Linked DNA regions of Homo sapiens. The protein of the gene in region 1 purifies or fractionates together with the protein of each later gene. This does not show direct contact. Each region holds a gene or a part of one and is shown on either strand. Other genes may lie near its edges.

Region 1 (16,725 bases):
TGCTTATAGTATTCAGTAAATGATTACTGACTGACTAAATGAAGTGCTTCTCAGCCCAGGCCAAAAAGTAAAACTCTGGGATGGGAAATATAAAAAAGTAATTCTAAAAGCTCAAGTATCCCTATGTACAATTCAGGGGTGATAGAAGAAAAATCTTTAACTATTTGATAGAAGAAAAATTATTCCTTAATCACTTAGGAGGACAGGCAATGTTCTAAGCCCATCACATATATGATCTCATTATCAGGAAACAAACTAGGAAAGCAGTGATTTGCCTGAGTTCATACCACTACTAAAGGGCAGGCCAGGATTCCAGAACTTTAGGACCCCTGATTCTGAGTCCATTACTCTAGGGAACAATAAAAGGTAATAAGCTCTAGATATAGAACTAAAACAAGAAAGGCTGCATTTGTGAATATTTTTTATGAGATCGAAGGAAATTTTCAATTGTTTTGAAATTCTCAATTGTTTTCATCTTTCTCAATTTAATTTGGACTTAAGAGATGCTTAAGTTATTTACAATATTTTTCATTTCAATTTATTTAAATTTCATTCAGTATCTCCTGTGTTATCTTTCTACAGGCCTCATAAGTGGATGGACTGAATTTTTTATGAAATACCAGTTAATGGATAGTCTATATCTATCCTGTGTCTGAAATCTCAACCTACATAGTCATCTTTAAATACAGGGAAGCAACAGCTGAAATCCTTGTTATTAAGATGGGAAATGGCCAGGTACAGTGGCTCATGCCTGTAATCCCAGCACTTTGGGAGGCCAAGACAGGAGAATCACTTGAAGCCAGGTGTTTGAGACCAGACTGGACAACAAAGTGAGACCCCCATCTCTACAAAAAAAATTTTTTAATTAGCCAGGCAAAATAGCATGTGTCCGTAGTCCCAGCTACTTGGGAAGCTCAAGTGGAAGGAACGCCTGACCCCAGGATTTGGATGCTGCAGTGAGCCATGATTGTGCCACTGCATTCCAGCCTGGATGACAGAGCGAGACCCTCATCTCTTTTAAAAAAAAAAAAAAAAAAAAAAAAAGCAGGGGACATATAATAAATCTGTTTTTAATTTAACTGCTTCTTTTTAACTTAAAACACATGTTAAGAAAACCAAGAAATAATCTTTGTATTACTTAGTCCCCTATTTTTTTTTTTTTAATTCTTCCTCAAGTTGACTTTTTTCTCTTTTTCCCCAAGGAAGCATAGTATTATTTTCTGTGATTCTTTTCCTTCTGTTCTGTATTCCTCAGTTGGCATTACATGTATCTCTGCTGGCAAATTCAAATTATTTTTTAAACCACTGGTGATATAAACAAGCAAGCAAATTATATGTCTCTATACAGAAGTAAATCATGTAGAAATGAGTGAAAGAAAAATGACCTCTGAGCTTCAGAAATAAAGAGCATAGTGCAGGAAAAAGGTGAGAAAAGAAAAAAATAGTAATGAAAATTTAAGAAAAATAAGGAGCAGATGAAGGTTTTAATTTTCTTTTATCACCTTCTCAATCACACATTCCTTACTCCTGCTATTGTAGTTGAACAAGTTATAGCCAAGCAAAAAGAATATTAGAAGAATATCTCCCTTACAAAATTAAGGCAGCAAACTGAAAAACACTGGCAATTGGAAACTTAGTTTTTCCTATGACCTGTAGAGAAACTGACTTGTCAGCATTAAGGCCTCTCTAAGTTAGTACAGATACAATATAAAATTTTTTTTTGTCAACAAAACAAACCCTACTTTTAGCAAAGAAGATTATCTTTGCAGTTTGTTGAAACCCAATGGGAAATCAAAAATCTTCAACATATAATGGTTCTTACCTTCCAAAAGCATTTAAAAGAGCAACTATTTCCTGTCGGGTGAGTTGGAAGCCTTTAGATGGACTATTCTCTGGAAGCTTTTGGATTTCTTTTTCAGAGAATAATATCTTCAGGGCAGTTCCTAAACCCTGAGTCTAAAGAAAATAGCAATAAACTCATAATTAACTTTAAATAATAATAACTAGTAAAAAGGCTTAAAGGAATATATAGCCACTGTTATGCCAGTTAGGAAATTCATATGAACTGAGCTTTTCACAAAAATATTACTACAGTTTCTACTTTCTCACAGGTTATGCATATAATAAACACATCTGAGCAGTTAAGGAAACCTGAATAGTCTTAACACTTATTGAATACATATCATACTATTCCAAATTATTAAAATGACTTTTTTAACCTTGAAAATACCATATTAGGATTACAATGTTCAATTTGTAACCATAAAGGACTTTTTACAGCTTTTAGCAATTCAAAACTCAGAGATTATTGATACCCACACTTAATAATTTCTCAATTATTAGCACTATAGAAAAAGACATTTTATTTCAGTATAGCCTCCACTGTAATAATTTTGTCTCTTAATTTTCTATAAGTTACCATCTTTGTTAGAAAGAGATAAAATATTCAACAATCCTTTTGACACTGGCTTACACAGAGTAATGGACCTGTCTTGCGGAGCTTTCCTGTTTTGACTAAGTGACCTTCTTTTGCTCATTTATACAAATTCAATGACCAAGACTTCATATTTCAATCTTTTTATGTAATTACATTTTACCTTTCTATATACATATGTAAAATACGGATATACTCGGTTCGTAATGACCACCAACTTCACAAATGAATCTGGTATTGTATCAATAGAAACATAGACACAATAAAACTAAAATCACTAAAGAATAATATGAGAAACATCCTTTCACATACATGTAACACATATACTTTAATTTTTTCATCAACAGAAAAAACACCTTGGATCTGCCTATTCCTAAATTCTAATTCAATGAACAATGAGGACATTTTAATAAAAAGCTTGGACTCAGTGGAAAAAATAAAGGTTAGTAATGGCTTCAAAAGAGAAGACAACACATATACCTGTAATTTTCCCCATAATCTGCATTTGTCACATCCAACACAGTCCATTATACGGGAGATATTCTTGAAATGTAATCGGAATTCCTCCTAGCAAGCAGAAAATATTTTCAGTCTAATTAGACTTTTAAAATTGAACCGCATTTGGCTAAACGATAAGTAAGTTTTGATGCTTATTAATAAATCAGTTGTGTTTTTTGTTTGTTTGAGAAGGAGTTTTGCTTTGTCGCCCAGGCTGGAGTGCAGTGGTGCCATCTCGGCTTAGTGCAACCTCCACCTCCCAGGTTCAAGGGATTCTCCTGTCTCCTCAGCCTCCCAAGTAGCTTAGATTATAGGCGCATGCCGCCATGCCCAGCTAATTTTTGTATTTTTAGTAGAGACGGGGTTTCGCCATGTTGTCCAGGCTGGTCTTGAACTCCTGGCCTCAAATGATCTGCCCACCTCGACCTCCCAAAGTGCTGGGATTACGGTGTAAGCCACCATACCCAACCCGAGTTGTGTTTTTCAACAGTAAAGAAAAATACTTGATACTTGTATACTATAACATGGTACATAAAATACTGACATTAATGGAAATTAATAAAATTCATTCTGCATATTAATTCACTTTCCACTGAGGAGCTACTTTATGCAAAGCACCAAAATATGCACTATGGGAGATACAAAAGTAAATAATACATGGTCTTTACTTTTAAGGAACTTAATTGCTGCTTCCATTTGTTATCTACATACAACCAACAATAAATATGTCTAGTTTATGTTTCACTTATTTTTGATCCTTTGCTTTGTGTAAGCCTATATCAGAAAGCTAGTCCTAGAACAATGATCAATTTTTGTATCACTCCTTAGTACCACACTATGTTTGTCATGGTTGCTCAATCAATATGAATGATAACAGGCCTGTGTGACACATATGGTCCCACAGTCCTCTACATTTGCTAATGCAGTTGTTATGGAGATGCTTACTGGATCCCTCTATTTTGCTGTAATAGTTTCCCACACTGGTCAGGCAGGGTGGCTCACGCCTGTAATCCCAGCACTTTGGGAGACCAAGGTGTGATCACTTGAGGTCATAAGTTTGAGACCAGCCTAAACAACATAGTGAAACCTCATGTCTACTAAAAATACAAAATCTGCCAGGTGTGGTGGTGCATGCCTGTAATCCCAGCTACTTGGGAGGCTGAGGAAGAAGAATAGCTTGAACCCGGGAGGTGGAGGTTGCAGTGAGCCAAGATCGCACCACTGCACTCCAGCCTGGGCAACTAGAGTGAAACTCTGTCTCAAAAAAAAAAAAAAAAAAAAAAGAGAAGTTTCCTACACTGGGGAAATTCTTCTGCCTATAAGCATTTGTGTGCAATATGCCTTTAAGGTTGGTCTCACTTTATCTGCGGATAAGATTGGTTAAGAGAAAATTTCCTCATTTGTTTCACATGGCAACTGCAGAAAATAAAAATCATTTTATTGCATTGAGGGAAATATTTTATTGCATGAAGCGGGAGGCAAGTAGCCTGAAAACTCTGGCTACCACAAGCCCTGACCAGCTGCCAGAGGGTTGAAAGGAATCAATACCTTGGCAAAGAAAGACAATATAAATAGAACACAAAAACTCCTGTGCTGGTCATATTCTCATGTAATGTAAGTTCTTTGCAGCAGATGGAAAAGGGACATAGGTTCTCCTTCATACATTCTTGACAAACAGCAAACAAAATCCCAGCATTGTGTAGTTAAAAGCTTGCTGTGAGACACTTAGGCTTTGCTTAGTCTCACTTTCCTCATCTACAAAAACATACATAATTATAGTTGCCCTATTACACAAGATCATTCTGAAGATTAAAAGTAGAACATATGTGTTGATACTTAGAAAACAGGAAGCATTATAAAAATGAATTAACATACAAAATACCAAAATGGCAATATACCTCTAAAACAACTGTAAAATAAAACAACCTTCCAACACTAAAATATAGTTGTGACTAAATTACTTATTTCAGAAATACCAAGAAAGTCTCGCCAAAGGAGAATCACTCAGTATTGATTTATTGGTTCCTATAGTACATCCACATCTAAAACATCTTGGGGTCAAATGTGTTTTAGAATTCAGAAGTTTTTAAATTTTAGAAATACAGTACATGTACTGTATATTATGAAACATCTCACCAGAGTGTGAGGAAACACCCTGCAGTCAAATCCGTTAATGTTTCTGTAGCAAAATATAAAAAATTCATACCAAGCAGAATTTGAAAACAACCCCACAAAACTACGAATATCTGCTATATTCTTACACCAGTTTAGGTCAGGTTTTGCTAAAAAATTACCTTGCACTAAACATAAGAAAATGTTTCAGTTTTTGAAACTACCCGGATTTCAGAAGTACATATAAAAGACTATGAAGTTGTACTCAAAGATTATTTGTGGCCAGGTATGGTGGCTTGTGCCTGTAATCCTAGGTACTTGGGAGGCTGAGGTGGGAAGACAGCTCAGGGCCAGGAGTTTGAGACCAGCCTGGGCAACATAGCGAGACCCCATCTCAAAAAATAAATTTAAAAGTAAAAAAAAAAAAAATGCCAATTTCAAATACTTTTATGAACATTTTAAGGGTACAATTTGTTTCTTAATGTACTTTAAGCAAATGAAAATAAAGAACACCTAACATGAAGTTTGGTAATGTTCCCAAAACATATTCTCCTTCTGATGTCACATGTTAACAGGTAGTTTTAACCTTTTAAGTTAGTCCAAAGGGACAAAAACATAATATATGTTTCAAAAACCGTAACATTCCATAAAATAAACTTTAGAAAAATATTTATTGTCCTCAAAGTGGCTAAAAGCTCATGGTATTCTGAAAGCTGCATCAAAACGACAATATACACTGCTTTTAAACTAAGAAAACTTTCCCTCAACTAGTATCTTTTAAAAAGACATTTATAAAGGTGTTATAGGACATACTAATGACCAATGATTCACTAAGCAGTTGGTCAATGGAACTGAGAAATATGGAAAGGCTTTTTGTACCATTTGTATTAAAATCCAATCAGACCAACTCTGACAAGAAGCTGGAAAACTGGGAAAGAAAACAGTTTGGATGCACAGCATTAAAGCATAACCAGCAAACTGCTCCCAACCCCGTGTCCCAATCGAGAACTTTTTACCTTTAGTGACTTGGCCCCTTTTTTGTCACCTGCAAACATGGATTTCTCATCAAAGTGCATGGGAAAGGACCTGATAAAATGATAGTATTGGATTAAGTTACACATGAAAAATCCACGTACTCTGTATCAGAAACCTGATAAAATTTTCTATCCTTATGAATATTTAAAATTCATTATTTACTCCGATGTAAGTTTTGGTAATGTAGAAAAGTGACAAACAGTTCACACATAAACTATTTCATAAAAGACTAAAGCAAGACACAGATGGCTGTTAAATTTAGTAAGACTGTAATGTTTTAAATAAATGACACAGGTAATCTAAAAAATTAACTGAAAACAATCTATGTAAAAAATAGGCAATATTCCCTTAATATTCTTTAAAAATTTAATACATAATTTACTTTAAACACTTTTTAATCTTTCTCTTCCAGGCTATTTTAAAAACCAGTTAACTCAAGTTTTCTTGACCAAGCGTTTTGTTTAAAAGGTTATATTCTAGAAGATAAGGCTAATGTTTCCTTACATATCCATCCCAATGCAAACACATGTATATTATCATCTAAATTTAAATATAGTGACTAGAGGCCAGGCGCGATGGCCCATGCCTCTAATCCCAGCACTTTGGGAGGCAGAGGAGGGTGCATCACTTGAGGCCAGGAGCTTGAGACCAGCCTGTCCAACATGGTGAAACCCTATCTCTACTAAAAATACAAAAATTAGCTGGGTGTGATGGCACACACCTGTAATCTCAGTTACTTAGAAGGCTGAGGCACAAGAATTGCTTGAACCTGGGAGGCAGAGGCTGCAGTGAGCCAAGATTGTGCCATTGCACTCCAGCCTGGGCAACAGAGCAAGCCTCTGTCTCAAAAATAAGTAAGTAAATAAAGTGACTAGAAGAATACAAAATTGGTAGAAAGACCATTAAAGTAGCACTAAATTTTGATACTACATAAAATTTAGTGATATTTTAAAGCACTATTCTCAAGTGTGAAAATTTCTGCAAAAGAAAGCCTTATTAATGCTTTTTCATCAACATTTTCAGAAATATTTTTAAATTCTGTTGTTCTATTGATCACTTTCCTTTTCTGTTCTACATCTCCCCTCGGTTAACTTTTAGGAGTCAGTTTTTGTGTACTTTAAGTGCTACCTCATTTGAATACAGAGAGGAGAATTTCAAATCACGGATAGTCAATTCTTACTTTGTATCTTGAAAGATATTCAGTAGAAGAGTTTTTGTGTCAGCATCTTCTTCTGCATTTCCAGTGTAAAGATCGACAATTGAGCGCTCAAAATATGGAGCCACCTTTGACAAAGCTCGAAGCTCAATCAAGTATAAAAAGTAAAGATTCTTGAGCCTTCTTGGACCTTCTCCCTTGGTTTCCACAGGGTCAAAGCGGTGTTTGAATTCTTTAATATTAGGTCCCCAACTGGGCTTACCCCAGGTTTCTAAAGAGAAAGAGAAATACATTACATTGTTTTAGTAAACAGGATTTTTTTTCTGCTCTAAAGAATATGTATTCTCTCCAATAATTTTTACACTAATAGAAGGCAAAATCTCGACTTAAAAATATGATTACCTTCCAAAAGATAATTTGCGCATAGATGTAAATTGATGCTAGCATGAAGTCCCGATATAAGCTTATAGAAGACTCTTTTCTCCAGACACAAACCTATTCAGAAAAATATTGAAAAAGAAATTACACCTATTTAGATATCAGAAATATTGACTCAAGGAGGTTCAGTATGTAGGCTTATTTTTGATTGAAGAACATTAAAATAAATCAAGGAATAATATAAAACTGATTAGATCAAGATTCTCTCACTAGAAGGCAAAGTAAGATTTTGGCTTCAGAATGGAGTTAACTGAATATGATGAGAACTTAATGCTGAAAAAAGCAGAAAAGTTTGAGCAACTAGGGGTCAAAACACTATGGATAAAGTTGGCAAGTTCCCATGTTAGACAGCAACAGCACAGGTTTTCTTGTGGTTTAGGCTAAGAACTTACTGAAGTAAATGTAATTATAAAGTCACTGCTGGATTTTTCCCCCTTCCTTATATGTGTTATTTGCTAGCAGAGAAATAAGGGTTTTATTAACCTTCTGCCCTGAAATTGTCTAATTTTTTAACCATATGTTCTACTTGTAAGGAGCTGAAACTTGGAAAACAGAAATCCAGGAATTTCAACTAATTAAAAAAAGAACAACAAGTTGACTGTTTACTACTTCAGTGGAATCATATCAGTGGAGTACAGGAATATAACAGAACGTTATTTGATGTAGCCTTCTTAAGCCACAGGGGCTTTTTTGCTGAGAACTTAAGAGGTCAAGATATCCCGTCATCCTATCCTAACCCCTGCCCCCATTTTAAAAGATTTTCTCTCATAATAGGAGTAATACACATTGTGAATGTATTTAATGCCACTAAACAGTAAACTTAAAAATGATTAAGATGGTAAATTCTTAAATAAATAAAAATGCAGAAAATTTTAAGAAGTCACTGGATACACGGCCATGAGCTTTTCCCTCCTTCATCCAACAGGTTTTTAACACTTTCCCCATGCAGGAAAATGGGCTTTAATAGTGGAAAGCAAAATAGTCTCATTTATATGATGGGGGAAATTTTTTTTTAATGTAAGAGTATGTGGTTTTCTTTGTGTCTATTAAGATTTTCCAGCAATTCACTCTCTCTTTCTGTCCTATCACAGATGATTCTGAAGCACGTGGCCTCTAACTAGAAAAAATAATTCTTTTGAGTTCTCGTTCCCTAATTGGGAATTCTTGCTAGAATATTCAAATTGTCATGGATGGGGACCAAAAGAAATTGAATTTTATTTTGTAGCTTCCTCCCTAAAAGTATATGACAATTTTGAATGTTTACGATAACAATGGATACAAACAATATGAATATATTTAATACAACATTAAGTACTAACTTCTCTTCTACTAAAACTTTTCATCAGATCTATTATCAAGTAACAAAATATCAGATTTGAAGTTCACTTTATTTTCTTCCCAACCTCTCTCTCTAAGCAGTGCTTATGTCCAATAAAATGGATAAAGACAAGAGAAGGGACAGTAAGCAAAGCAAAACTCATGAAAATCCATATGCCTACAAACCAGGACCTGGAAAACTGGGAGGCAGTTATAATTTGCAAAGCCCACAAAGCCCCTACCACTGCAATGAGGTAGGGGATAAGTGAGGGGAGAGGAATAGAAATGTATTTCCACAAACTGTGAAAAACAGGTAACTTTAAGCAAATTAATAATAAAATATGCACCAAGTAAGTGCACCCAGACACACAACACACTTAGCAGGAAATTGCTGGAGAGCTTCTCCTGGCCTACACACAGTCTGTGCCAGGCTGGATGGTATCTTTAATTACCGAGGTCCAGGCAAAAGCCTTCTCAATCTCACTCTGAAGTGACATCTGCAAAAGCTGACTTACCAAGGCAGAATCCACCAACTTCTAACAACATAGAGCAATTCAATTACACAATTTAGAAAATGGTTCTCTTCTTCCTCTTTTCGATTTAATTTCATTAAAATGCATTTTCAGCACTTGAACTTTCAGAAAGGGGTTGCATTTACTGTAACAGTAATATTTGGCATTTGGACGTGGATTTGTGGTTTCCAAAGGAACCTTTACAGGAATCATCTACACTCACAGTGTAAGTAGGACTGCTATTGCTCCTCTCCACGCTCCAGATGAGGAAACTGAATCTCAGAAAAGGTTGAGTCAGCTGCCTATAAGGGAATGCTCTTTGGAACCATGTATCAATATTCAGATACTCAAAACAGTAAGACTGGAAGAATGGTTGATATAATATACATAGAATCCAATATTGTTTCTAAATTTCATTCTCATTACTAACACTCAGAGTCTCTGACTACCTTTTCTAGCCTAAATGCTACTTTTCACAATTTGTATCTTTAGAGTAGAGCTTATTAAACAAAGCTAAACATCTTCTACATAAGTGATTTTCTCATATAACTCCTAACAGAATTTGCACATCAATAATGTTCACCTTAATAATGGCCAACATATGCACATAGTTCATTACAAACAAAGAAATAGGCCAGGTATGGTGGCTCACACCTGTTATCCCAGCACTTTGGGAGGCTGAGGTGGGCAGATCACTTGAGGCCTGGAGTTCAAACCAGCCTGGCCAACACGGCGAAACCTCATCTCTACTAAAAATACAAAAATTAGCTGGGTGTGGTGGCGGGTGCCTGTAATCCCAGCTATTTGGGAGGCTGAGGCAGGAGGATCACTTGACCCTGGGAGGCAGAGGTTGCAGTGAGCCGAGATGGCGCCACTGCACTCCAGCCTGGGCAACAGCGAGACTCTGACTCAAAAAAAAAAAAAAGAAATAATATTCATAAGATAACATGACCAATTGACATGCATAAAATAGAATTAGTTTTACTCTGTAGTATTCCTATAAGGTTATGGCTATGAAATATCAATTTTCCTATGTCATTCTACTTGCTTATCTGTTACTAATATATTTTAATTTTTAATTTCATATACTAATGGCAATTTGGTAAGGTAAATTTTTAAAAGCATCATATATCCAGTTATTAACCTGAGTTATTAAAATCCTACAACATTTCACCTTTCCATTAATAGCATTTGATATTTTCAACACTGGAAGTACAAGAATGCAAAAGCATCTAATATATCAGGATCTATATTGCTTTATCTTTTAATCAGACAAGGTTAGACTATATTAACGTGGCAAATATGTTTCGAATCTTTTGAATTCATATTTATCTTCCATTAATTTTATATATAAAAAGTACTTCCTTCCAAAAGGAATGTCTCCACTTTTAAAATATTTTGCATACTCGTTACTAGAGAAGTAGTTTGAATGAACATTACATACAGAACAGAAATAAGATTAGGGAACCAGTTATGAAAACCTGATGACAGTATTTGGCCTGTGTATTTATATAAACCTGGTTTTTAGCTGACCACTATCTTCAAACTTTTCACATAATTTTATCCCCATATGTTAACCTAAAACACATTTTTTTTTTCAAACTGTCAAAATTAGTTGACTAGGTAATAAAATCCTAGACCTTACAAAAATATGCTAAATAAATCAGTATTTTTTAACAAAAAATCCAATAAATTTAGAACAGACTGTTTACCTTCTAGCCATGTGTAGAATGATTCTCCTGAGAGAGAGAGAAAAGTGGATTAAAACATTATATGGTCATTTATAAAGTAGAATAAATTAGGTTTATAAAATCTTTCTGCAGGGCATGGTGGCTCATGCCTATAATCCTAGCACTTTGGGAGGCCGAGGTGGGCTGATCACTTGAGGCCAGGAGTTTAAGACCAGCCTGGCCAACATGGCGAAACCCCATCTCTACTAAAAATACAAAAAATTAGCCGGGTATGGAGGTGCAGGCCTGTAATCCAGCTACTCGGGAGGATGAGGCAGGAGAATTGCTTGGACCCAGGAGGCTAAGGTTGCTGTGAGCCGAGATCATACCACTGCCCTCCAGCCTGGGTGACAGAGTGAGACCCTGTCTCAAAAAAAAAAAAAAAAAAAAAAAAAATTATGACAGATTAAGTAATCTCTCTAAAATGTCTACTGCTTCAGGTAAAATAGAAAAATAACCATATGGTTCTAGGAAATAAAACCTACAAATAATTTAAGTAACTTTAAGAGAGTGTTTTTACAAATATTTTGACTATTAAATTTTTTAAGAAAACATTTCAGTCAAAATATGAGCTGGCCACAGTGGCTTGGACCTGTAGCCCCAGTTAACTCAGAAGGTTGAGGGGGAAGGATTGCTTGAGCCCAGGAGATCGGATCCAACCTGGGCAACATAGCAAGATCCTGCCTCTTTTAAAAAAAAAAAGTATATAAATCTTATTCATTGAAGGTGTAAATATCTGAAAACATAGGGCAAACATTTTAACGATCTCAAATTTGCTTTTCATAACAACCATAGTGCTTTTTAAATATTCCAAGAAAATAAGGAATTATAATTAACACAAACGTCCAACTATTGATTATTCCATTTTTCCTAATCCAATAAAACTAAAAATATTTCCTCAATTTTCTAAGACTAATAAGTTTTAAGGGACAGCTAAAAAATCTCTTAATTTTCAATATAATTCTTCAGGAAAGTTAATAGAATACAGAAGGGCTTGACTAATCTGTGTACTAATGCTGAAGAACATTCCTGGGGTCAGGGAGATGCTGGTCAAGGGATACAAAATTTCAGTTAAAGAAATGCAGTAAGTTCAAGAGATTTATTGTAGAACATGCTGACTACAGTTAATTACAACGTATTGTATTCTTGAAAATTGCTGCGATTTTAAGTGTTTTCGCCAAAAAAATGGTATGTGAGCTAATTAGCTCAATATACCCATTCCACAATGTATACATATTTCAAAACATGTTAAACACTTGAAAAAAAAAAAAAAAAAGAACCATTCCTGGCCCTGTAACCTTCTTCTGAGTTGGGGAAAGAGAAAGAAAAGAGAGCAGTCAATAAGAATCAAAATTGTTAATGCACTTCCTGCGTTACCTATCCTTGATGTTGTTTTTTTTTAAATTGAGAATGATAGAAATTATAGAAAAACCGAACACTCAGATGAGCTGAGTAAGGAGTCTAGGGATAAACTAGACGGTGGGGAATTACTTTGCCTCCTGAGAGTCTTCATACTTTGTACAAAAATGAAAACGTCTAACAAATTAATTCATTCAACATATAGTAAGGATCATTTATCATTATATCACTTGTGATTCAAAACACCTCAAGTGCCAACAGGAAAAGTCTAGTACCCAACGTACTAAAAAATATGGCCTCTATCAATCTAATTTAAACTACCACTATATAGTCTTACCTACCACTAAAAGGGTCTCTTTACTGTCTCCCCAAACATGCCTGACTTGTCTCAACTCCCAGCTGCATGCTGTTTCCTCCAACATGCACTATCCAATTGTACGGATCTAAATCTGTCCCATTATTCAAAATTCACCTCAAATGCTACCCCTCCTCCAGTAAGCTTTCCCACATCGCTCCTGTGAGATACGATCTGTTTCTCCTCTAAGGAGCTATATATATCACCTACTGTTTGTACCATCTATGGAGTATTTCTTTACCTCATTACCATTGTTTATGTACAGTGCTTATCTTTCCTACTATCCTATATATCCTCAGCTCCTAGAGGGAAAGCACCATGTTTTAAACATCTTCCTACCCTGGACAATGCCCATCAGTGCCCCTGAACACAGAGAGGTAAACATTCAGTTGAAATAATTATTTTGGCTATTTTGGGGGTATCTTTTAACCAACATTCATTCAATAATCAATTGTTAATAAATTGCTCGTCATCAAATTAAGTATTATATTGATACCTGAGGTTAGAAATTTCAGTCAATAAGAAAATAAAGAGGTCACAAGACAAATTATCTGGTAAAACTACCTTAACTCCTTCTCCCCACTTCCTCAGGACATATTCAAGTAAATTATATAATAACCAGAAAATGGGGAACTTGTAATGTGAATTGATTTACAAACTAAGCATTTAGGAAAAATGGTCTTTTTTTTTTAACATAGGATAACTTGATATATATAAAATAATCTTTTTTTTTTTGGTCACCATTCATTAGTAGCTATTTTCTTAGAAAACAGGAATACTTTCTTTTGAATTCCATAAAGGAAAAATCAAATTCTGATTGTTACAAAAAATTTCCTCCACACTTGAAACAAACAAACATGAGTTTTGCTCACCATCATCTTCGCCTAAAAGAGAAAATAATAGAAAAGATTTTAGAAAATGTCTTACATAGCTCAGATCCCAATACTATTTTTTGAGATTAAAACTGTTAAACTATTAATTATATCACAAACCTTGGTCACTGAGTAGACGCCCTGCAAATGAGTCCTCTTAATCAGAATACAGGTCAAAGAGTATAAGATTTGCACATTTTGGCCAGGCGTGGTGGCTCACGGCGGTAATCCCAGGACTTTGGGAGGCCAAGGTGGGTGGATCACCTGAGGTCAGGAGTTTGAGACCAGCCTGGCCAACATGTGAAACCCTGTCTCAACTAAAAATACAAAAATTAGCCAGGCATGGTGGCATGTACCTGTAATCCCAGCTACTTGGGAGGCTGAGGCAGGAGAATCACTTGAACCCAGGAGGTGGAGGTTTCAGTGAGCCAAGATCGCGCCATTGCACTCCAGCCTGGGCAACAAGAGCAAAATTCCGTCTCAAAAAAAAAAAAAAGAAGAAGGCTGGGCACGGTGGCTCAGGCCTGTAATCCCAGCACTTTGGGAGGATCACCAGGTCAGGAGTTCAAGATCAGCCTGGCCAAGATAGTGAAACCCCATCTCTACTAAAAATACAAAAAATTAGCCAGGCGTGGTGACCGGCACCTTGTCATCCCAGCTGCTCAGGAGGCTGAGGCAGAGAACTGCTTGAACCCAGGAGGCGGAGGTTGCAGTGAGCCGAGATCACACCACTGCACTCCAGCCTGAGTGACAGAGTGCGACTCTGTCTCAAGAAAAAAAAAAAAAGATTTGCACATTTTAAAATACAATAACATCAGAAAGCAACTAAAAAGTCATAAAGACCACTATTTTCAATAATTAATTAATTACTACATAAAGTTGCTCCTTTAATCATTATGCACACAATCCTCTCTGAACATTACTGTTTCCAACCTGGAATATTTTTCTCTTTTAAATTACTGCTCCTCAGCAGAGACAGGCCTTAGTAAGAGTATATCCCAAACTGTAATCAGTGAAACCCTTGGGCAAGGTGCTGCTTCCAGGAGGCCTAGAGGTGAGGAAGAGGCCAGAGGTTGGGCTCTAGGGCAACACAGCAGCTCTGCCTATCAGCTTTATTATGTAGGTTCTGAAATAAGATTTCATTTTTGGACAAAAGTTCCTATTGCTCAAAACCTGTTAGAAAATAGTTGTATAAGCCTAGGGGTTATGACTCAGAAATGTGGAAGAAAGAGTTAAGAAGATTAAAGAACTATTAATCAACCAATTTCAATGGAGATAGCAGGTAAATAGCAACAGCAAGAGCTATTAATTACTTCATAGAGTACTCCTATAACAGCTAGGAACCATTCTCTTTACCTAGTCTTGTCTTCTTTCATATTTCATTTTTCTTCTTTTCTCCTCTTCCCTTCCTCTTTTTCTATGTAGTAGTTTCCTTTTCCTCATCTTTTCAGCAGTGTTATGTCTCTGATATATCACTAACATGGAAATGAAGTGTTTCTTAGGACTTGATGGTTTTCTTAAGTGAAAAAATTGTATTTTCTGCTTTAAAAGTATTAAGTGGCTGTAGAAAAGGTCTGGAAGAACACCTTTCAAACTCTGTACTATGGAATAGAAGAGCTTTCCCTTTTCACTTTATATAACTACTATATTGCTTCAATTTTTATAAAATTTTGTTTAATTAAAACCTTTAAGTTGAAAATAGAAAAGTTGTGAGGCAAAAGTAGTAAAAGAGACAAAGGATAAGAAGCCAGGCACGTCTTTTTCAGGACCAACTTCCTTCTCCAGGCAGTTTCAATGTGAATTTGGGGAAAACAAGTATTTGCCACATTGTGACAGAGTGAGCATGAAAAAGCAGTCTATGCAGTCAACCCTTCCAAGTCTATTTGGTTCTCAGAAAGGTCTAAAGATACAAATTTAGATCAGGAAATCAAATTTCTTAAAACACTCCCCGTCTAAAGAAAACACTGGAATGGCAGGTCAATGACAGAGTTGCTCCCAGGGTTTGGTTCCTCACTGAGAACAGACTGAGGATGTATCCCACTGATGACAGTAATGCTGTTCCATTGAAATATAACGCCACACACGAGTGTTAACTTAAAATGTTTCTAATAGCCACATTTTTAAAATTCAAAAGTATACACACACTACAACAAAAATATGTTACATGACGCATAGGTTATAGTAGTCTTACCAAAACAATAAGGTTCTGTTTAACAATATAGTTTTTACATCTAAATAAACTAAGATTAAATACAATTTAAAATTCAGTTTCACACTAGCCAAATTTCATGTGTTCCACAGTCCCATGTGGAAACTGGTTACTTTATTGGACAGTACAGATATAGAGCACTGCTAAAGTTTCTAAAATTGTTGTACATTTTTCCTACTGAAAGTGTGGTACATGAGTCGGCACCTGAGGCAGCACCTAGGAGTGTGTTTGGACCTCTCCCAAGAAATACAGAATCAGAAGCTGTATGTTACCAAGGCTCCTGGGTGATGTGTATGCACACTGAAGTCTAGAAGCACTGTTACGAGACACTGGCTGTCAAACTTGGTTGCATACTGGAATCATGTGGAGAGTTTAAAAAATAACAATGCCTGGTGTTCTCATTCCAAGGATTCTGACTTAATTAATATAGCGTAGGGCCTGAGCAACCAGATTTTTTAATAAGTCCCCAGGAAATCTTTGATATATATTGATTACTCACATATTTTAATTATTTTACATAAACTTCCTAGTTTAGGGTCTGGCACAGAGCAGGCATTCAATAAATGACAGTAATTATGTAAAACAACATGCCTAGAGATCTCGAGACTCGACTATGAACTAATCTTACACTTTTTGTTCATCATTCAAATTAAACAAAATATAAAAATGAAAGTTTTTTCAATATGAAGTTTAGTTAT
Region 2 (8,795 bases), on another chromosome or scaffold:
CCCTCCCCCACACCTGACTGGTCTTCCGTGGTGTCAGCTGTGTGGATGTGGTTGTCAAACCACAGATGGGACACAGTCATGCGGTTCTGAGTGAGAGTCCCTGTCTTGTCCGAGCAGATCACCGAAGTGGAGCCCAATGTCTCCACCGCCTCCAGGTTCTTGACCACGCAGTTCTTACTGGCCAGGCGCTTGGCTGTCAGGGACAGGCAGACCTGGGGAAGGGGTGAGCACCGCAGGCTGGGGACCCACCCTGGCTTCCAGTCCTCTTCCCCGCGTCAAAGAACGGGGAAGGCTTTACCCCAGCCGCGGGGCTGCGTGTGCAACGTGCTTCTGCAAACACCAGGTGTTTTCTTGGCCCCAGCTTTTGTTCAGCCAGTGCTTTGTTTGGGACTCCTTCCCCAGTCTGCCCAGATACAGTAGCGAGGCCCCTCTCTGAGCTGTCCCAGCCGAGGTTCTGAAAATTCTCTTCACACAATCAAAATGAGAAGAGGAACCTTCCCCGCACCTCCCTGGGGACTGGTCTGGAGCTGGGTGCTGACTGTGGAAGGTCTGGTGACATGCTGGCTGCCTGCACAGGACATCAGCCTCTTCCAGTTAAGGACCCGGCCTCGTCATCTCTGCGCCCTCAATGTGTGGCACAGGACTTGCCCCAGGGTTGCCTCGGGAAGGACTTGCTGAATGAGTGGATGATGGGAAGGCAGGAGAATGGATGGGAGCTAAGTGGACAGATAGACAGGCAGGGAGGTGATGGGGGAAATGTGGAGGAAAGAACAGATGGTTGAGCAGGCCCCTCAGCTCCCTGCATCCCCGCCTGCCCCCACTCACTGTGACAGTGGCCAGCAGCCCCTCAGGCACATAGGCCACCACGATGGCCATGAAGAAGACCATGGCCCGCAGGAAGGTGTAGCCAATGCACATGGCCACAATAAAAAATGTGGCACCGAAGAGAATGGCCAGGCCCGCGATGATGTCCACAAAATGCTCGATCTCGATAGCGATGGGTGTCTTCTCGTTTTCCACCCCCGACGCCAGCGATGCGATGCGCCCAATGATGGTGCGGTCGCCCGTGTTCACCACCAGGCCCTGCACGGTGCCTGCAGGGGGGCCAAGGCGCGACTCAGGGATAGGGGGCGGCAGTGGGGTGTGCACTGCCGTGTGAGCTGAAGGACAGCCAGTCACTGCCAGTGGAGGATGTGACCTGGGAGAGGGTAGTGACAGTGGGAGACAGAGAAGCAGTGTGCCCTGGGGAGGTGGCAGTCACGGGGAGGTGGCAGTCATGCAGGAGAGAGACAGGGAGGCTGAAGCCCCCTGTCCTAGAAGATAGCAGGAGAGAGGCCAGTGGAGGCAGCAGTTACTGGGCAGGCAGGCGGGGGCTTCACAGACCCTCAAGGCACATGGTGGAGAAGAAGGCGATGTTGCGGGTCTCCAGAGGGCTCTCGTGCGTGCACTCGGGTGAGCGGGTCTGTGGCTCAGACTCCCCTGTCAGCGAGGAGTTGTCCACCTTGCAGCCCTGGGCCGCCAGGATGCGGATGTCGGCGGGCACTCTGTCCCCACCTTTCATCTCCACCAGGTCGCCCACCACCAGTTGGTCAGCGTTGATCTGGAATTTGTCTCCATCGCGGATGACAGTGGCTTGCTGCGGGGCAGGGGCACCAAAGTTGAGGTGGACGGGGGTGGGGGTGGGAGCTGCTGCATGTGGGGAGGTAAAGGATGAGGAGAGCTGGGACCCATGGGGAGAGATGGAGGCCACAGATGAGGGACAGGGGCCTGATGGAAGGAGGCTACAGGAGCAGTTTGGAGTCTCTGGGATCTGGAGTGGCTGGGTGCTGGGGAACCCACCTGTGGCACAAGGTTCTTAAAGCTGGCGATGATGTTGGTGCTCTTGAATTCCTGGTAGTAGCCAAAGCAGCCGGTGACGACAACCACAGCAATGAGAGCGATTGCCAGGTACAGCTGGGGACAGGGAAGGGGTGGGGTTATTCAGAGGGGCCGGAAGCTGCCTGCCTGAGGCCACCGACCTGCTCCCTGGTGCCCTGGTTTTCTTGGTTTTCCCCATGCTTTTCCCCACCTACTAGGAAGCTCCATGCACCATTCCCTGTAGCCTTTAGCCCCCTCCCATGTCCCTCATGTCCCACACTCGCCTGCTCTGTCTTCTCAGTGTCTTGTGTTTCTGTGTATATTTCATATCCTCTGGCCCTGAATCCTCAATCTTCCATGTCCCCATATCTGTGACTTGTGCCCCAAATCACTGTGTGCCTTGGTCTGACGTGTTCCCTTCTCCTGTGTCCCCAAGCCTTGCATTCCCCATGTCCACTGTCCCATGTCTCCTCCTGTCCCCATGGCCTGTATTCCCCGTGTCTCCAGTTTCACATCCTGGGTTTTCCATAATCTGCTGCCACCCTCTGTGTGTCCCCTGGGCCCCCTTGTCCCTGCATCCTCACATCCCCGTCCCTGCGTGTGCTGCAGACCTTGTACGTCATGGTCTGTGTCCTCTGTGGCCACGGCCCCCATGTTCTAGCTCCCCAGTCACTGTGTCCCGTGTCTCCCATGTCTGTGTATCTCCGAGTTCCCATCCTGTGTCCCATGGCCATGACTTTTCGAGCCTCTGTCCCATGTCACATGTCCCTGAGTCCCCATGTCCCTTGCCCTCATCTCTGCCATATGTCCAATGTCCCTTGCCCTGCACCTCCATTTCCTCTCTGTCTCTGTGCTTCTATGTCTCATGTTTTGTGTCTCTCTATGTGCTGTGTCCTGAGGCTTGGGTCCCTGCCCTGGTGTCCTATGTCTGAGTCCCAGGGTCTCCTATTCCCCGTGCCTCAGTCTGTCCTGTGTCTGCACTGCATGTCCTCTGCTTCCAAGTCCCATCTCTTTTTTTTTTTTTTTTTTTTTTTTTTAAGATGCAGTCTCGCTCTGTCGCCCAGGCTGGAGTGCAGTGGCATGGTCTTGGCTCACTGCAACATCCACCTCCTGGGTTCAAATGATTCTCCTGCCTCAGCCTCCCAAGTAACTGGGATTACAGGTGCCCGCCACCATGTCTGGCTAATTTTTGTAATTTTAGTAGAGATGGGGTTTTGCCATGTTGGCCAGGCTGGTCTCGAACTCCTGACCTCAGGTGATCTGCCCGCCTCGGCCTCCCAAAGTGCTGGGATTACAGGCATGGGATTACACGCCCGGCCTCCAAATCCCATCTCTTACGTATCACATTGCCATACTCTTTATGCCCCCACCTATGTCCCCATACCCAAGATTCACCCCAGTGTCCCTGTGTCCTGTGTCCTTGGGTCTGCCCCATCCATATCCCAATGTCCTTCACCCTCCATGACCCCTGTCTTGAGACTGCCTTTCGTGTTCGTCTATCCCCATCCTTCTCTGCCCCTCTTGTCCCAAGTCCCAGGCTCAGTGTCTTCCATCCCCAGGTCCCCATGTCCTGAGCCTGTCCCCACAACATGGCTCACATTGTCGTCGGTGGTGAGGTCCCCCTCACTAGCCTGGATGGCAAAGGCGATGAGGCAGATGGCGGCGGCAACCCACATGAGGCACTGCAGGCCCCCGGCCAGCTGCCTCGCGAACTTGACGTACTCTGGGGTGCCCCGTGGTGGCCGCAGTGCGTTGGGCCCATCCCGCAGCAGCAGCTCAGCAGCCAGGCTCGCAGAGAGGCCCTGGGACAGAGGGGCAGGGCGAGGCGGTCCTGGGGGCTTTCCTCCACATGCACACCCCGTGGAAAGCCCCCTGCTTCAGTTTCCCTTCTCCAGCTTGGTCTGTCCTGCTCCTTCTCATCTCTTTGTCTCTTGGTTCCTGCCCCCACCCCATCTCTCCCTCCCTCCTTCATCTCTCCCTTTGTCTCTCTCTCCTCGCTCCCCTTTCTATGTGTCTCTCTCCTGCTGCTCTCTCCTTATTTGTCTCTGCCTTCTCTGTCTTGCTGTCTCTTTTCAGCTACTCCTCTCTCCGTCTCTGTGTGTCACCCTTTCTCTCTAATGCTTTCTCCCTTCTCTCCCTCTCCCTCTCTCTCCCTCTCTCCATCTCCCTCCCTCTCTCCTCCCCTCCCTCCATCCTTTCCTCTCTCCCTCCCTCCCTCTTTCCTTTTCTGCCTCCCTCCCTCTCTCTATTTCTCCATATCTTCCTCTCTTCATCTCTCCCTCTCTCTCCCTCTCTCCATCTCCCTCCTTCCATCTCCCTCTCCCTCCCTCTCTCCTCCTCCCCTTTCTGTACGCTCCCAGTCTCCAGCTCACCTTGGTGGCACTGGTCTGGTATTTCTGTTCCAGCTCCGCCACTGACAGCTGGTGGTCGTTCTGTGTGGTGGGGTGGGGCAGGGTGCTTGCTCTGGGCTCTCCTGGCCCCCTCCCCGCCCACTGCCTGGTTCCCAGCCTACCCTCCAGCTCCCGCCCCTCCCCAGTCAGAGCTCACAATCTCCATCTCCTTCTTCATGTTCTCCAGCTTCTCCTTCCTCTTGCCACCCCCGCCACCCGCCTTCTTCTTCTTGCTCATCTTGGCAGCCATGTCCCCGCCAGGGCCAGGACCCAGCTCCACCGAGTAGAGCTCATAGTTCTCCTGGGAATGGACAGGATGGAGGGAGGGAGAACTCAGATTCCACTGCAACCCCTGTCCCCACTGCACCCCGGACCCCTGGGCCCCACTCACGGCCTTCCCCATGGTGCCCGGTGCCTGTGCTCCCACCCAACAGAGCCTGGGCCCGGACCAGTCCTGATATACCCAGGGAGGGCGGTGGGGTGGAGCAGAACCGCCCGACCACAGCTGATTACAGGCTCCTTGGGGTGACCTCTAGGCCTGGGCACCTCAGGCATTCCCTCCTGGGCTGGCCCCCCCCTCCCCTGCCCAGATCCCCCCATGTCAACCTGCCCTGAGATCAGGGAGCCCCTGGGAACCGCTGCAGCAACAAGAAGAGCAAACATAAGGTGCTCATTATGCGCTGGGCATTGTGCTGACGGCTTCCATGTGCTAACTTATTTAACCTTCCAATAACCCTTTGAGGGGACAAGACCCTTTACAGATGGGGAAACTGAGGCATGGAGGGGTTGAGTCATTCTCCTATGGCTCCATCACAGGCTAGGACATAATGGAGTGAGAACCAGATCAGCTGGCTGCAGAGTGTCCTCTTTCAGTCTAAATAGCACGTGCCTGATCAACTGGAAGAGGAGGGTGCTCCCACACTCTTTTTTTTTTTCTTTTTTTTTTTGAGATGGAGTGTCACTCTGACACCCAGGTTGGAGTGCAGTGGTGCAATCTCAGCTCGCTGCAACCTCCGCCTCCCGGGTTCAAGTGATTCTCCTGCCTCAGCCTCTTGAGTAGCTGGGACTACAGGCACATGCCACCACACCCAGCTAATTTTTGTACTTTTAGTAGAGACGGGGTTTCACCAGGTTGGCCAGGCTGGTCTCGAACTCCTGACCTCAGGTGATCCACCCGCCTTGGCCTCCCAAAGTGCTGGGATTACAGGCGTGAGCCACCATGCCCTGCCATGCTTACAACACTCTCTATGGTGGCTGAATGTTTACTGAACTCTGACTATTCACTATGGGCTGGGTGTGCTCTGTGTGTCACTCAAATGGTTTCCTTAGCATCTAACAGCAGCCCTGTAAAGCAATATTCTCTTCTTAGCCCCCATCAGGGACTTTGCAGAAGATTTCAACGTCTAAGAATTAGGGACAGGGTTCCAGCCCGGGCTTGACCCCAGGGCTTGACCCCAGAGCCTAGCTCTTCTATGGCACCACCAATGGAAAAACCCAAACTTCACTGCAGCAGCACCACACACATGCCAGGCTCTGCACGTGTGACCTCACGGGTCTTTGCAAAAAACCCTGTGCAGGCAGAACTATCATTCCTGTTGTGCAGAGGGGGAAACTGAGGCTCACAGGGACTCACATATCCAGCTACAGACTTTACAGCTCTCAACCATTCCCCGTCCCTACCCTAGATGGGGAAACCAAGGTGCAACATGGGGAAAGGATGTGTCCAAGGGTCTTGGCTTGATCTTGGTGTTGGGTGACAGATGCCAGGAGGCCTGGGGACTCCCTCCTCATCCCTCAGGTAGGGACCTCCATGGGCAGCAGCAGCGAGGGGCTGGGCCAGTGGAATGGTGGGGACCTTGGTATGTTATGGGGTGAGCGTGTCTCCAGGAGCAGGTGAGCGTGCGCCTGATAAGATAACTGCCCTGGCAATGTCCTTCTCTACTGGGGCAGGTCACCTGGGAAACTCAAAGCTGTTGGGCAGCCAGAGCTCCTCCCCGCACCCACACGGCTGGTCATCCCCAGCCTGCTAGAAGAAACCTCCAAAGAAGAGGTGGCGTGGGGCCACATGCTGTCCTTGTAGTGAATCTACTCGCTCACTGGGCTCCCATCAGCTCTGAGCCATGTATGTCAAACAGCTTGTGTCACCCCCTGCTTACAACCCTCCAAAGCCTTCCCTTCCCACTCAGAATAAACTCTGCACTCCTTCCTGCAACATCTGGCCCTGGTCACCTGTCCTGCCTCTGTTGCTGCTAGGTTTCCAGGGGCACTGACCTCTCTGCTGCACTTTGCACAGACCAAGGTCGTTCCTGCTTCAGGACCTTGGTACTTACAGTTCCTTCTGCCTGGGCCCCCTTCCTTAGATGTCTGCACTGGCTTTCTCACCTCTTTCAGGTCTCAGCTCAAATGTCACCTCTTCAGAGAGTCCATTCTGTAATACTGCACACTGTGTTCTGTTCCTTTACCCCACTGTATTTACACCTCCTACTCCAACCTGACACTGTGTTTTCTTTTTATTTGTTTGGTGTTCATTAGAAGGAGGACTGGGCCGGACACTGTGACTCACATCTGTAATCCCAGCACTCTGGAAGGCTGAGGTGGACGGATCATGAGGTCAGGAGTTCGAGACCAGCCTGGTCAACATGGTGAAACCCTGTCTCTACTAAAAATACAAAAATTAGCTGGATGTGGTGGTGTGTGCCTGTAATCCCAGCTACCAGGGAGGCCGAGGCAGGAGAATCACTTGAACCTGGGAGGTGAAAGTTGCAGTGAGCCGAGATCATGCCACTGCACTCCAGCCTGGGTGACAGAGTGAGACTCTGTCTCAAAAAAAAAAAAAAAAAAAAATAGAAAAATAGATAGATAAGAGATGTTAGACAGATAGATGGATACATAAATGATAGATGATTGATAGATTTTTTTTTTTTTTCTTTTTGAGACAGAGTCTTTCTCTGTCGCCCAGGCTGTAGTGCAGTGTCATGATCTCGGCTCACTGCAACCTCTGTCTCCTGGATTCAAGCAATTCTTGTGCCTCAGCCTCCCAAGCAGCTGGGATTACAGGCACCCGCCACCATGCCCAGCTAATTTCTGTATTTTTAGTAGAGACGGGGTTTCACCATGTTGGCCAGGATGGTCTAGAACTCCTGGTCTCAAGTGATCCACCCGCCTTGGCCTCCCAAAGTGCTGGGATTACAGGTGTGAGCCACCATGCCTGGCCAGAATTTTTTAAATTTTTGGCTGAATCATTTGGAAGCAAGTTGGAGACAGGATCCCCTTTATCCATACTTAGGCATGTGTCTTCTATGAATAAGGACATTTTCTTACATAAGCACAGTCTAATAATCAAATTCAGGAAATTAACATTAATAAAACACTAGTAAATAATCTAGAGCAAGCTTGTCCAACCCATGGCCTGCAGGCCATATGTGGCCCAGGACTGCTTTGAATGCTGCCCAATACAAATTCGTAGACTTTCTTAAAACATTATGAGATTTGTTTGCGATTTTTTTTTTTTTTAGCTCATCAGCTATTGATAGTGTTAATGTATTTTATGTGTGACCCAGGACAATTCTTCTTCCAATGTGGCCCAGGGAAGCCAAAAGATTGGACACCCATGATTTGGAGGATTTATTTGAATTTCCCCAGTTTTCCCACTAATGTCCTTTTCCTAGTCCAGGATCCAGTCCGGGACCACACCTCACATTTTGGCTTCCTCCATTGCGTAACAATTCCTCCATCTTTCCTTGTCTTTCATGACCTGGGCGTTTTGGAAGAGTATGATTCAGTGATTTTGTAGACTTCGCTCAGTGTGGCTTTGCTGCTGGTTCTTCGTGATTAAGTTCGGGTTGTGTGCTGGCAGGAACACAGAAGGGATGTGTGTCCCCCCCATCCCCTGCCCCAGAGCATCATCGTGTCAGGCCATGCCCCATTTTGGAGTCTGTAACTTGTCTAGAGCAGGGTGGACATGGTGGGGAGGGGTCTCAAGAGCCTTAGGGAGTGATCAGGAAACCATTCTATGCCCTCTTTAATTTTTACTCAAGACAGTGCCACAGCCAGGGCTGGCACCCAGCTGCCCTGGTAGTTAAAGTAATTGAAAGAAATACAGCCACTGCCTGAGCCCCCAGCACTTCCCCTAAGACTCCAGACCTCCCACACCCAACCCCTTAAAGTGGATGCCTGTGCCAGTCCCAAGGCCTTGTCCTTTTTTTTTTTTTTTTTTTTTGAGACGGAGTCTGGCTCTGTCACCTAGGCTGAAGTGCAGTGGCACGATCTTGGCTTACTGCAACCTCCACCTCCTAGGTTCAAGCGATTCTCCTGCCTCAGCCTCCCAAGTAGCTGGGACTACAGGCACGTACCACCATGCCCAGCTAATTTTTGTATTTTTAGTAGAGATGGGGTTTTGCCATGTTGGCCAGGCTGGTCTCCAACTTCTTACCTCAAGTAATCTGCCCACTTCAGCCTCCCAAAATGCTGGGATAACAGGTGTGAGCCACCACGCCCAGCCACCCTTGTCCATTCTGACCATCCCCTGCTCAGCTAGGTTCATGGGTA

Evidence for each region.
Region 2: the proteins of ERO1B (region 1) and ATP4A purify together in Homo sapiens (affinity purification with mass spectrometry; 3 studies listed by BioGRID and IntAct, with this or other methods). This does not show direct contact.

What each region holds. Positions count from the first base shown.
Region 1 is NC_000001.11:236,219,010-236,235,734, forward strand, and holds part of ERO1B (ERO1-like protein beta precursor), read right to left. Parts: intron 13,831-16,725; coding exon 13,819-13,830; intron 11,242-13,818; coding exon 11,215-11,241; intron 7,731-11,214; coding exon 7,638-7,730; intron 7,507-7,637; coding exon 7,260-7,506; intron 6,131-7,259; coding exon 6,061-6,130; intron 3,002-6,060; coding exon 2,915-3,001; intron 2,877-2,914; exon of another isoform or gene 1,957-2,876; coding exon 1,823-1,956; intron 1-1,822.
Region 2 is NC_000019.10:35,558,980-35,567,774, forward strand, and holds the start of ATP4A (potassium-transporting ATPase alpha chain 1), read right to left. Parts: upstream 4,680-8,795; 5' UTR 4,651-4,679; coding exon 4,639-4,650; intron 4,549-4,638; coding exon 4,405-4,548; intron 4,290-4,404; coding exon 4,230-4,289; intron 3,660-4,229; coding exon 3,456-3,659; intron 1,954-3,455; coding exon 1,840-1,953; intron 1,637-1,839; coding exon 1,384-1,636; intron 1,095-1,383; coding exon 826-1,094; intron 213-825; coding exon 14-212; intron 1-13. UniProt on the Homo sapiens protein: The catalytic subunit of the gastric H(+)/K(+) ATPase pump which transports H(+) ions in exchange for K(+) ions across the apical membrane of parietal cells.